3 linked regions of the Homo sapiens genome follow. The protein of the gene in region 1 purifies or fractionates together with the protein of each later gene. This does not show direct contact. Each region holds a gene or a part of one and is shown in the gene's direction. Other genes may lie near its edges.

The links.
Region 2: the proteins of TRPM4 (region 1) and FSD2 purify together in Homo sapiens (co-immunoprecipitation; one large-scale study listed by IntAct). This does not show direct contact.
Region 3: the proteins of TRPM4 (region 1) and DHCR24 purify together in Homo sapiens (co-immunoprecipitation; one large-scale study listed by IntAct). This does not show direct contact.

What each region holds. Positions count from the first base shown.
Region 1 is NC_000019.10:49,164,069-49,167,791, forward strand, and holds part of TRPM4 (transient receptor potential cation channel subfamily M member 4), read left to right. Parts: intron 1-1,972; coding exon 1,973-2,147; intron 2,148-2,153; exon of another isoform or gene 2,154-3,110; coding exon of another isoform or gene 3,111-3,723. UniProt on the Homo sapiens protein: Calcium-activated selective cation channel that mediates membrane depolarization. While it is activated by increase in intracellular Ca(2+), it is impermeable to it.
Region 2 is NC_000015.10:82,760,959-82,764,681, reverse strand, and holds part of FSD2 (fibronectin type III and SPRY domain-containing protein 2), read left to right. Parts: intron 1-2,403; coding exon 2,404-2,580; intron 2,581-3,723.
Region 3 is NC_000001.11:54,863,196-54,866,695, reverse strand, and holds part of DHCR24 (delta(24)-sterol reductase precursor), read left to right. Parts: intron 1-1,249; coding exon 1,250-1,393; intron 1,394-3,500. UniProt on the Homo sapiens protein: Catalyzes the reduction of the delta-24 double bond of sterol intermediates during cholesterol biosynthesis.

The sequences.
Region 1 (3,723 bases):
CACCTCTGCTATCCCTTCTGTAAAATTGCTCTTAAATCTGCTCACTAGGTTTGTGTAAATACAGGTCTCCCCTGATATCTGAACTCCTGGAATCTGGAACAAAGAATTTAGATACATTTTTCTCCTTCTTTCTTCCTTTCTCTTTCTTTTCTTTTCTTTTCTCTCTCTCTTTCTTTCTTTCTCTCTTTCTCTTTCTTTCTCTCTCTTTCCCTCCCTCCCTCCCTCCCTTCCTTCCTTCCTTCCTTTCCTTCCTCCCTCTCTGTCTCTCTCCCTCCCTCCTTCCTTTCTTTCCTTAGTTTTTTTTTTTTTTTTTTTTTTTTTTTTTTTTTTGAGATGGAGTTTCGCTCTTGTCTCCCAGGCTGGAGTACAATAGTGTGATGGCTCACTGCAACTTCTGCCTCCTGGGTTCAACCAATTCTCCTGCCTCAGCCTTCTGAGTAGCTGGGATTACAGGCACCCGCCACCACGACCAGCTAATTTTTGTATTTTTTTTAGTACAGACAGTGTTTCACCATGTTGGCCAGTCTGGTCTCAAACTCTTGACCTCAGATGATCCACCCGCCTCAGCCTCCCAAAGTGCTGGGATTACAGGCATGAGCCACTGCGCCCGGCCTCTTGCTTGCTTGCTTGCTTGCTTGCTTGCTTGCTTGCTTGCTTTTCTTTCCTTCTTTTCTTTTTTTTGAACAGGGTCTCACTCTGTTGCCCAGGTTGGAGTGCAGTGGCGTGGTCACAGCTCTCTGCATCACTGCAGCCTTGATCTCCCAGGCTGAAGTGATCCTCCTGCCTCAGCCTCCTAAGCACATGCTGCCACACCTGGCTAATTTTATTTTATTTTATTTTATTTATTTATTTATTTTTAGAGACAGGGTCTGACTATATTGCACAGCTGGTCTCGAACTCCTGGGTTCAGGTGATCCTCTGGCCCCAGCCTCCCAAAGTGCTAGGATTACAGGCATGAGCCATCATACCCGACCCTACATTTTCAAATGAATTTCTCATTCTCCAAACCCCTGTTACTTACTCAGGTGCCAATCACCTTTAGAAAGCAAGAGAGACTTGTGCATTTCTTTAGGTGGGGGAAAGTTTTATATGTGGAAACTTTCCAAATGGAAACCTGTTCCATTTGGCACAGAGAGGAAGAAACAAGCCACACAGAAGCCAAAGACAATGAAAAGCAAACAAAGGTGTTTCCCTACTCGCTAGATGGCTGTTGCCAGCTCCATTTTTTGAGCCCGAGGCCTGCTTTTCTTGTTCAAAAGAGTAGCAAAGGGTTAGGCATTCAAAAATATTCTAGCACCCGGCTGAGCCTCTCTCCTTGACAGTCGTCAGGAGAACTGAAAAAGGAATGACTTTCTCACTGCGTTATTCAAGGTTATTTTAAGCTCCGTGTGAAGTTCGTGTCGCGTTGCCTCTGGCTGGGACTGGTATGCGAGCCTCATTTCAGGAAACACGGCGTTCTTTCCCTGGCTCCTCATAGCTCCGTGGAGTAGGCCGCGCTATTATTGTCTTTTCATTAGAGGAGGAAATTTAGGCTCAGAGAGGTGAAGCCGCTCGCCCAAAGTCACACAGCCGCGTCAGCCCCGAGCATGCGGGCTCTCCCTGAGTTACCCGCTGGATGTTCTTTCTCGTGTTGAACGTCATGTGTTTGGATGGGGGCACAGGGCACAGCAAGGATACCCCCAGTGGCCCTCTGCCTTCCCACTTGAGGCTCCTCAGGTGACAGTGACCTGCTTCTTCCTGCTCAGGCTTTCTGGACTCACTGGCTTCCTTCCCGTGGGGAAAGGGGACCGTCCTCGGCTCCAGTCTCTCCCCGAGGCCGTCAGAGCCAGGGCCAGGGGCAGCGTGGACTCTGCCTGCCTCTGTGGGTGTGGACTCAGTGTCGACAGCCCCCTCTACAGGAGCATGAACACGCTGACAGGGTGCTGGGGTCGGGGGGCAGCCCTGGGTTCACGCTCCGCCCTCGCACCCCCAGAGGGACCTTGTGCCAGTGTGGGCGCCCCCGGACCGCCCACCCCGCAGTGGCCATGGAGGATGCCTTCGGGGCAGCCGTGGTGACCGTGTGGGACAGCGATGCACACACCACGGAGAAGCCCACCGATGCCTACGGAGAGCTGGACTTCACGGGGGCCGGCCGCAAGCACAGCAATGTGAGGCGGGCCTCTGTGGGCGGGGCCCGGGCACCAGGGGGCTGCATGCTCGGGGCTCCAGAGTGGAGCCGGGACGCCCGCCCTGAACCCTGGCCCCTCCGCCCATCCCTGTCTTGGCTCTCTTTGTCCCCTCCGCCCCACCTATCTTCTCTCTGAGGGGGTCCCGTTCTCTCTGCGTCTCTTTGTCTCTGTCTCCCTCTGTCTCCGTGTCCCTCTCTCTCTGGGTCTCTGTCCCCCTCTCTCTCTGGGTCTCTGTCCCCCTCTCTCTCTGGGTCTCTGTCCCCCTCTCTCTCTGGGTCTCTGTCCCCCTCTCTCTCTGGGTCTCTGTCCCCCTCTCTCTCTGGGTCTCTGTCCCCCTCTCTCTCTGGGTCTCTGTCCCCCTCTCTCTCTGGGTCTCTGTCCCCCTCTCTCTCTGGGTCTCTGTCCCCGTCTCTCCGGGTCTCTGTTTCCCCTTTTCTGTGGGTCACTGTCCTCATCTCTTTGGGTCTGTGTTTCCGCTTTTCTCTGTGTCTCTGTCCCCGTCTCTCTGGGTCTCTGTCTCTGTCTCTCTGGGTCTCTGTCTCTGTCTCTCTGGGCCTCTGTTTCCCCTTTTCTCTGTGTCTCTGTCCCCGTCTCTCTGGGTCTCTGTCTTCCTCTCTCTGGGTCTGTTTCCCCCTCTCTCTGGGTCTCTGTCCCCATCTCTCTGGGTCTCTGTCTGTTTCTCCGGGTCTCCGTCCCTGTCTCTCCGGGTCTCTGTTTCCCCTTTTCTCTGGGTCTCTGTCCTTGTCTCTCTGGGTCTCTGTCCCTGTTTCTCCGGGTCTCTGTCCCCGTCTCTCCGGGTCTCTGTTTCCCCTTTACTCTGGGTTTCTGTCCCCATCTCTCTGGGTCTCTGTCCCTCTCTCTCTGGGTCTCTGTCCCTCTCTCTCTGGGTCTCTGTCCCTCTCTCTCTGGGTCTCTGTCGCCATCTCTCTGGGTCTCTGTCCCATGTCTCTGGGTCTCTGTCCCTCTCTCTCTGGGTCTCTGTCCCTCTCTCTCTGGGTCTCTGTCCCTCTCTCTCTGGGTCTCTGTCCCTCTCTCTCTGGGTCTCTGTCCCCGTCTCTCCGGGTCTCTGTTTCCCCTTTACTCTGGGTTTCTGTCCCCATCTCTCTGGGTCTCTGTCCCTCTCTCTCTGGGTCTCTGTCCCCGTCTCTCCGGGTCTCTGTTTCCCCTTTACTCTGGGTTTCTGTCCCCATCTCTCTGGGTCTCTGTCCCTCTCTCTCTGGGTCTCTGTCGCCATCTCTCTGGGTCTCTGTCCCTCTCTCTCTGGGTCTCTGTCCCTCTCTCTCTGGGTCTTTGTCCCCGTCTCTCTGGGTCTCTGTCCCCGTCTCTCTGGGTCTCTGTCCCTCTCTCTCTGGGTCTCTGTCCCATCTCTCTGGGTCTCTGTCCCATGTCTCTGGGTCTCTGTCCCTCTCTCTCTGGGTCTCTGTCCCATGTCTCTGGGTCTCTGTCCCTCTCTCTCTGGGTCTCTGTCCCCATCTCTCTGGGTCTCTGTCCCTCTCTCTCTGGGTCTCTGTCCCTCTCTCTCTGGGTCTCTGTCCCCATCTCTCTGGGTCTCTGT
Region 2 (3,723 bases), on another chromosome or scaffold:
ACATGCTGAAACCCCATCTCTACTAAAAATATAAAAATTAGCCGGGCCTGTTGCGGGTGCCTGTAATCCCAGCTACTCGGGAGGCTGAGGCAGAAGAATTGCTTGAACCCGCGGGGCGGAGATGGCGCCACTACACTCTAGCCTGGGCAACAGAGTGAGACTCCTTCTCAAAAAAAAAAAAAAAAAAAAGCAAGTAAAGAATGAAGCAACAAGAGCAGAGATTTATTGAAAACGAAAGCACACTCCACAGGGTGGGAGTGGGCCAAGCAAGCGGCTTAAGGGCCGGGTTACAGAATTTTCTGGGGTTTAAATATCCTCTAGAGGTTCCCACTGGTTACTTGGTGTACACCCTATGTATATGAAGTGGCTAAAGTGAAGTTACAAAGTCATTTACTGGGTGTACACCCTATGCAAATGAAGAGGATGTTTCCTGCCATGCTGAAATACAAAGCTATTTACTTGGACTTAGAAGGTTGGGGTTTTTCCGTTTAATTTAGTTCTAGGAAGTCCTTAGGTTCCCTGCCCCCAGACCCTGTTCTCCTGCTTCACAGGGGTCATGCTGTGGGCTAGTGGGAGAACAGAAACAAGGACCCAGGTCTCCCACCAGTTAGCCCAGTGCTCTCTCTCCTGCACTGTGGTACCTTACAGCAAAACTCCTGATGGAAAACTGGCCATGGAGTGAGTCTGTTCCAAAGTTCAAGGCAGATAATTGCTTTGTACATGTACATATGAAAGAAGCCGGAAAGATCATGTTTGGAGAAATATAAGGAATTTGGTATGTCTGCGGTATAGGATCCATGACGGGAAGAGGTGGAAGATGAGGCAGGAAAGTCGGAGAAAGTCCAGTATACACACAAAAAGTTAGGATTTTATCCTCTATGTGGTGAGAATTATTGGAGGATTTAAAGCAGGGGAACAAGATCAGATTACATTTCAGAAAGATTCCAGTGCATGGTAGAACGTGAGCTGGGGAGGGAGAGGGAAAGGCAAAGGCAGATGGGAAACAGAGACCAGAGAGGAGACTATGGAGGGCTTGACTACGCAGTAGCATGGGTGAGAGGAGCCAGGGGAGTCAACTGCTGTTGAGCACATAAAACCAACAAGGCTAGGTGCTCACCTGTTTAAAGGGCAACAGAGAGGAAGATGAGTCAGGGACTATCATATTGCCATATTTATAGAGTGCTTACCAAGTGCTAAATGTATTTCATCTCATGCAATCATCCTAACAGCCCTGTACTATTACCAATCCCAGTTGACGGATGAGAATACTTAAAACACAGAGAAGTAACTTGCCCAAGAGTATAATGCTATTAAGGGTTGAAGCAGGAATCAAACTAGAAGGTGAGCTTGTAGCCACTACATTATTCCCATCTTAGTTTTCCACCAGGGGGTTACCGGGTAGATAATGACTCTATTAACCAAAATGGAGATGTGAGAAGTATGTACCCCTCCCCACTACACCCCAAACTTTGGTAGATAAGAGGGGTGGGAATATGACTTTTTCCATTTGGGACATTCTGAATTTGAAACAACAAGTGGAAATGTGAGTCTGGAGCTTGAAGCAGAGATGGCCTCATTTTATAGGTGAGGTAACCGAGGTAGAAGTTAACCAACATGCAACCTCCTTCCCAAAGCTTTGCTTGAGCAGTAAGAACTTGGGGTTTTGAAAGTAGAGAGAAAATTTTAAACTGAACAAATCTTTCTAGGGATGTTGAGGTCTATATATATTTTGGTTAATGTAGGAGTCTCCTGAAGAAGGTAGAATATTCACTTTGGAGATACCAGTATAATTTGATTTTCACTGAAAACCTTCCTCTGTTGATACTTTGCTGATGTAGAACAAAACATAACTCTAATCTTTGTCAGTATAATTGTTCCCAGTGCAACAGTGGAGGTAGATTTTAATGATCTGTGAGGAATCTGCTATCTTGTTCTCCTTGGGCTGGCCTCTGAATTCCACCAGGAGTCATCCCTAACATGATGGCTACCTCAAAGGCCTTCCATGTTCATTTAGTACCATAAGCAATGGTGGTGAACTTCAAGCTTATGGTTCCCTTAACCGTGCTGTGTTGTGTATTTTCAACCCTTTTCTTTTTTTATGAACAAGTGAACCAAACCTTTTTCTATGAAAGCCCCAACCATTTTAAAGAGCAAACAAAACTTGTTCTGTTGGTTTAGTGCCTCCTCCTCTCCCATTACCAAGCAGTAACATAATCTCAAATCTTCAGTATCAGCCCACTGAGCTTTGAGAGCTAAGGGTACTTTACAAGTTAAGTGTCCAGAAGCACCTACCACCACGTTCGTAGACCACCGACTGACTGATCCCAGCAACTGGCATCACTGACCTGCACAGCCAGGCTTGGGGCACCCCAGATCACACATGCTTCCACTTTCTAAAACCAGGTGTGTTGCTGTCATGGGAAATCTAATTCCAGTCCGAGGGCACCATTACTGGGAGGTGGAGGTGGATGAGCATTTGGACTACAGAGTTGGTGTGGCCTTTGCAGATGTCCGTAAACAGGAGGATCTGGGAGCAAATTGCCTCTCCTGGTGCATGAGGCACACATTTGCATCATCAAGGTAAAGTAAAATCTGGATACTCACAATTAAAATTTGCTTTTGAAAGATTACAGCAAGACCTTTTCACTAGCAATAATTAAGACACACGTTATATTTTACAAATATTTTAAGATATTTCAGGAGTTGCTGCCAGCCACTTTCCCTAAAGTCCAAGTAAGAGGAGAAAGAGCAGCTTTTCTTCAACTAAAAATAGCTAAAATTTATGGAGAATTATGTGCCAAGTACTCTTACATGCATTATCTCATTTACTTCTCACAATTGTGTTATCTCATTTGAAAAATCAGAATGCTGGGTGCAGTGGTGTGCACCTGTAGTCCCAGCTACTCAGGAGAGTGAGGTAGGAGTATTGTTTGAGCCCTGGACTTCAAAGCCAGCTTGGGCAACATAGCAAGACCCCGTCTCTAAAAAAAAAAAAATAATAAAATAAAAAAATAAAATAAAATAAAAGAATAAAAATAAGAAGACCACACCTCACAGCAATTAGATAATCCAAACGACATGGATTTGGAACTTGGATTCAAACTCAAGCAGTCTGGTTCCAAAGATTTCATTCCTAACCACTTAAGTGATAGATTTTTCATTTCTGTTCACCTTTAGTATTAAGCCAATACAGTTTGCTTTGAAGCCCCAGTTCCATCTTTTTAAGTAAATGTGGGCAAGAGGCTTAGTAGTTATGGCTAATTCTGGTTTGCTCCTGCTGCTGGGCACTCTGTCTTTACACATGGAGTAGTTCCATATAGTGGGAAAAAAAGTCTCACGAAGCCCAGGCCAATGAATACACTTTCAGACTTAGAAGGCCATGGTTACAACCTTCCTTCACCTCAAAAACTGAAAAACAAGACCCCACACTGCTTTCCTATCACACCTTGTAAAATGGGGCCTCTGACCCTCCTTGATTTGATGAATCCTATTAATGTTCATCCAATGCTCTCTGCCCATGATCCTCTATCATGGTTATTTACACATTATGTGTCATGCCCAAGCATAAGTGGGAAAACCAACTTCCCCTCCGATAACAGATGAAGACTCTAATGAAATCTACTAAACCTCACACCCAGTTTGGGGAATCCAAGAATTACTATACACTGAGGCAGATACTTTATTTGGGGATTCTGCCTGAAGTAAGACTAAAGAGCAAAGTCT
Region 3 (3,500 bases), on another chromosome or scaffold:
CGGCAAAGGGTTGCCTGGCTGTAGGGTAGAGCAGGTCAACAAGGGAATGGGTGGGGACTGATACTTCAGCCACCTGTGGACCAGGCACCGTGCTTGGCACTTTCTACATCATCTCTTTTAGTCTTCCAGAAATGCTAAGTAACCTGCCTAGGCTCTGCTAAGTGTGTTGTAAATGGAAAAAGCAAATTGGCAAACAGTACGTGTAAGATGGTCCCATTTTTCAGGAGGCTGAGGCAGGAGAATGGCGTGAACCAGGGAGGTGGAGCTTGCAGTGAGCCAAGATCGTGCCACTGAACTCCAGCCTGGGCGACAGAGCGAGACTCTGTCTCAAAAAAAAAAAAAAGATGGTCCTATTTTTTAAAAACAGTGGGCATATGTATGTAATTTCTAATAGACAAATAACTCCCACAAAGTATGTATTTTTATTGTCATGTTACATGTGAAGAAACAGGCTCAGAGATGACCTGCCTGGGTGTGTCCCCAGCTGCCCACCCTAAAGCTTGTGCTTTTCCAGGATCCCCCCTGCCTCTCCCCGAGAGCATCTGCCAGAATTCATTTATGGATGAGGAAGCTGAGGCCAGGAGAAGCTCAGCCATCCCAAGGCACACAGCACATTGAGTCATGACCATTTAGGGCTGCAGGAGACATCAGCTCAATAGAAGATTTGGGTGTGGGAGCCCCCAGGGCCAGGGAGGTATGAGCCTTATTCATGTGAGCATCCTCCAGACGATGGTGGCTGCCTGGGGAGTGCTGTACCCGGAGGACTGTGGAGCTTGGTCCAGGGACAGCAGGGAAAGTGCCATGACCAGTTGGTGCCATGAGCCCTGGGTTGCACTGAGGGGCTGACCCATTCCCAGAGTTCGTGCTTCCCTGGCCTTGGGGAAGGTGGGAAGGGAGGGAGGGAGGGAATTCCCCTGCATGGGGCACTGCATCAGGGCAGTTAAATGTTTAACTCTGTTAAACACTTGCACCAGGCTAGGCGGGGTCGCTGAGTTCTCTAGACTGTCGGGGACTCACTGTTTGGCCCTGGGCACACACCACTTAACCTCTTTGAGCTCCTGCTCTCTCTGCTAGAGGATACCCGCTGTGCCTAACCTCACCAGCTTTCAAGAGTCTCAAAGGCAGTAATAGACATGAAAGAGCTTTGAAAAGGCCAGGAGTGCTGAACAGAAGCCGGGTGTCGCTGTTACACCCCGATGGTGCTGGGCGCTTGTCTGCAGGCTGATCACAATGCCCTCTGTCATTTCAGCTGAATAGCATTGGCAATTACTACAAGCCGTGGTTCTTTAAGCATGTGGAGAACTATCTGAAGACAAACCGAGAGGGCCTGGAGTACATTCCCTTGAGACACTACTACCACCGCCACACGCGCAGCATCTTCTGGGAGCTCCAGGTGAGGCTTAGGTTTCTGTAGCCCTGGCTCCTCCAGGCCAGCTGGGCAGGGAGCCCGGACAGTTAACACTGTAGCCATACTCTCTCCCTTCAGGGTAAAGAGTGGCTTTGTCCTAAGGAACTGCAATGCCTTCTTAAGCAGCAACACAGTCGTTTCCTTCTGAAGGAACCAACTACCTTCAGTTCAAGCAGCAGGCTCTTAGCAAGCATCTGCTTGGTGCTGGGGAGTAAGCCCCTGGGCCGGTACTTTGGGGAACACAGACCTGTTCCGCCCTTGAGGAAGGGTTAGCCTCTAGCCACGGTGAGCAGACAGATCCCTGCACTGTAAAGGGCCGCAGGAACATTAGTAGGAAGTGGCTAGTTCTGCCTAGGGCTCGAGGTAACAGCCAAGCCTGGCTGTGAAAGGTGAGTGAGAATTTGCTGTTGCATGTGTAGATGGGTGGGTGGATGAGGAGCAGTGACACTTTAAGTGGGGGAAGGTCAGGAAGAACCCCTCAGGAGATGACTTTGTGAGCAGGGACCTGAACATAGGGAAGGCAGACCAGGAACAACTCTGGGGAGGACTCTGGAACTCTGTTCACAGGCAGAGGGACAGCCAGAGCCCAGGGCTTGAGCTGGGCTAACAGGAAATTAAACATTATAAAATGGACAGTTCAGGGTAGTTTAGTACATTCACAGTGTTGTGCAACCACTACCTCTGTGTAGTTCCAAACATTTTCATCTCTGAAAAGGAAACCCTATACCCATTAAGCAGCCACTCCCTATTCTCTCCCCTTTCCCCAGCCTGTGGCAACCACCAATTCATCTTCTGTCTCTGCAGATTTACTTATTCTGGATATTTCACATATATGGAATCATTCAGTATGTGCCTTTTGTGACTGGCTTCTTTTACATAGCATAATGTTTTCATGTATCAATATTTCATTTCTTTTTATGGCGGGATAGTAGTTCATTATATGAGAGACCACATTTTGTTTTGTCACTCATCTGTTGATGGACATGTGGGTTGTTTCAACCTTTTGGCTACTGTGAACAGTGCTGCTACAAACCTTCATGTGCATGTATTTGTTTGAATACTTGTTTTCAGTTCTTTGGGATATAGAACTAGGAGTGGAATTGCTGGGTCATATGCTAATTCTGTGTCTAACTTTCTGAGCAACAACCAAACTCTTTTCCACTGAGGCTGTGCCATTTTTCATTCCCACCAGCAATGTATGAGCGCTCTATTTTTTCAACATTCTCACCAACACTTGTTATTTTCTGGTTTTTAAATTATTAGTATTATTATTATAGCCATTCTGGTGGGTTTATGGTATTGACTTGCATTTTCCTTGAAATTAATGATGCTGAGCATCTTTTTATATGCATGTTAACCGTTTTGTATATCTTCTTTGGTGAAAAGTCTATTTGAATCCTTTGCCACCTTTTAAAATTTGGTCATTTGTCTTTGTTGTTGAGATGTAAGAGTTCTTTGTGTATTCTGGATACTAGACCCTCATCAGATATATGATCTGCAAACATTTTCTCCAATTCTGTAGGTTTCTTTTCATTGTCTTGGTAACGTCCTTTGATGCACAGAAGTTTTTAATTTAGATGAATTCCAATTTATCTATTTTCCCTTTTGTTTGTGCTTTTAGTGCCATATATAAGAATTTATTGTCAAGTCCAAGCCCCTTTGTTTTCTTCAAAGACCTTTATAGTTGCAGCTCTAATCTTTAGGTTGTTGAGTGGGGTAGGAGTCCAGGCTCCATTCTTTTGCTTATAGCTATCCAGGTGTCCCAGCAAGGCTGCATGTGTTTGAAAAACAGCAAGAAGCCTTCGGAGCCAGCATGCCCACGCTGAGCTATGGTGAGGAATGAGGTCAAACAGGCACCAGAGGCTAGATCATATGGCTCCTTGTAGGTTAGGAAGGACTTTATATTTTATTCTAAGTATAATAGGAAGCCAATGAGGGCTTTGAACAGGAAAGTGGCATGGCCTGATTTTTGTTTTAAAAGAATAACTGTGACAGCTGGATAGAGTGGATGGGGACGGGAGTGGACAAGAGTGGAAGAGTAGAAGAAAGAAGATACTGTTGTCTGGGCAGCAGCAGAGGAGAAGTGTCAAAT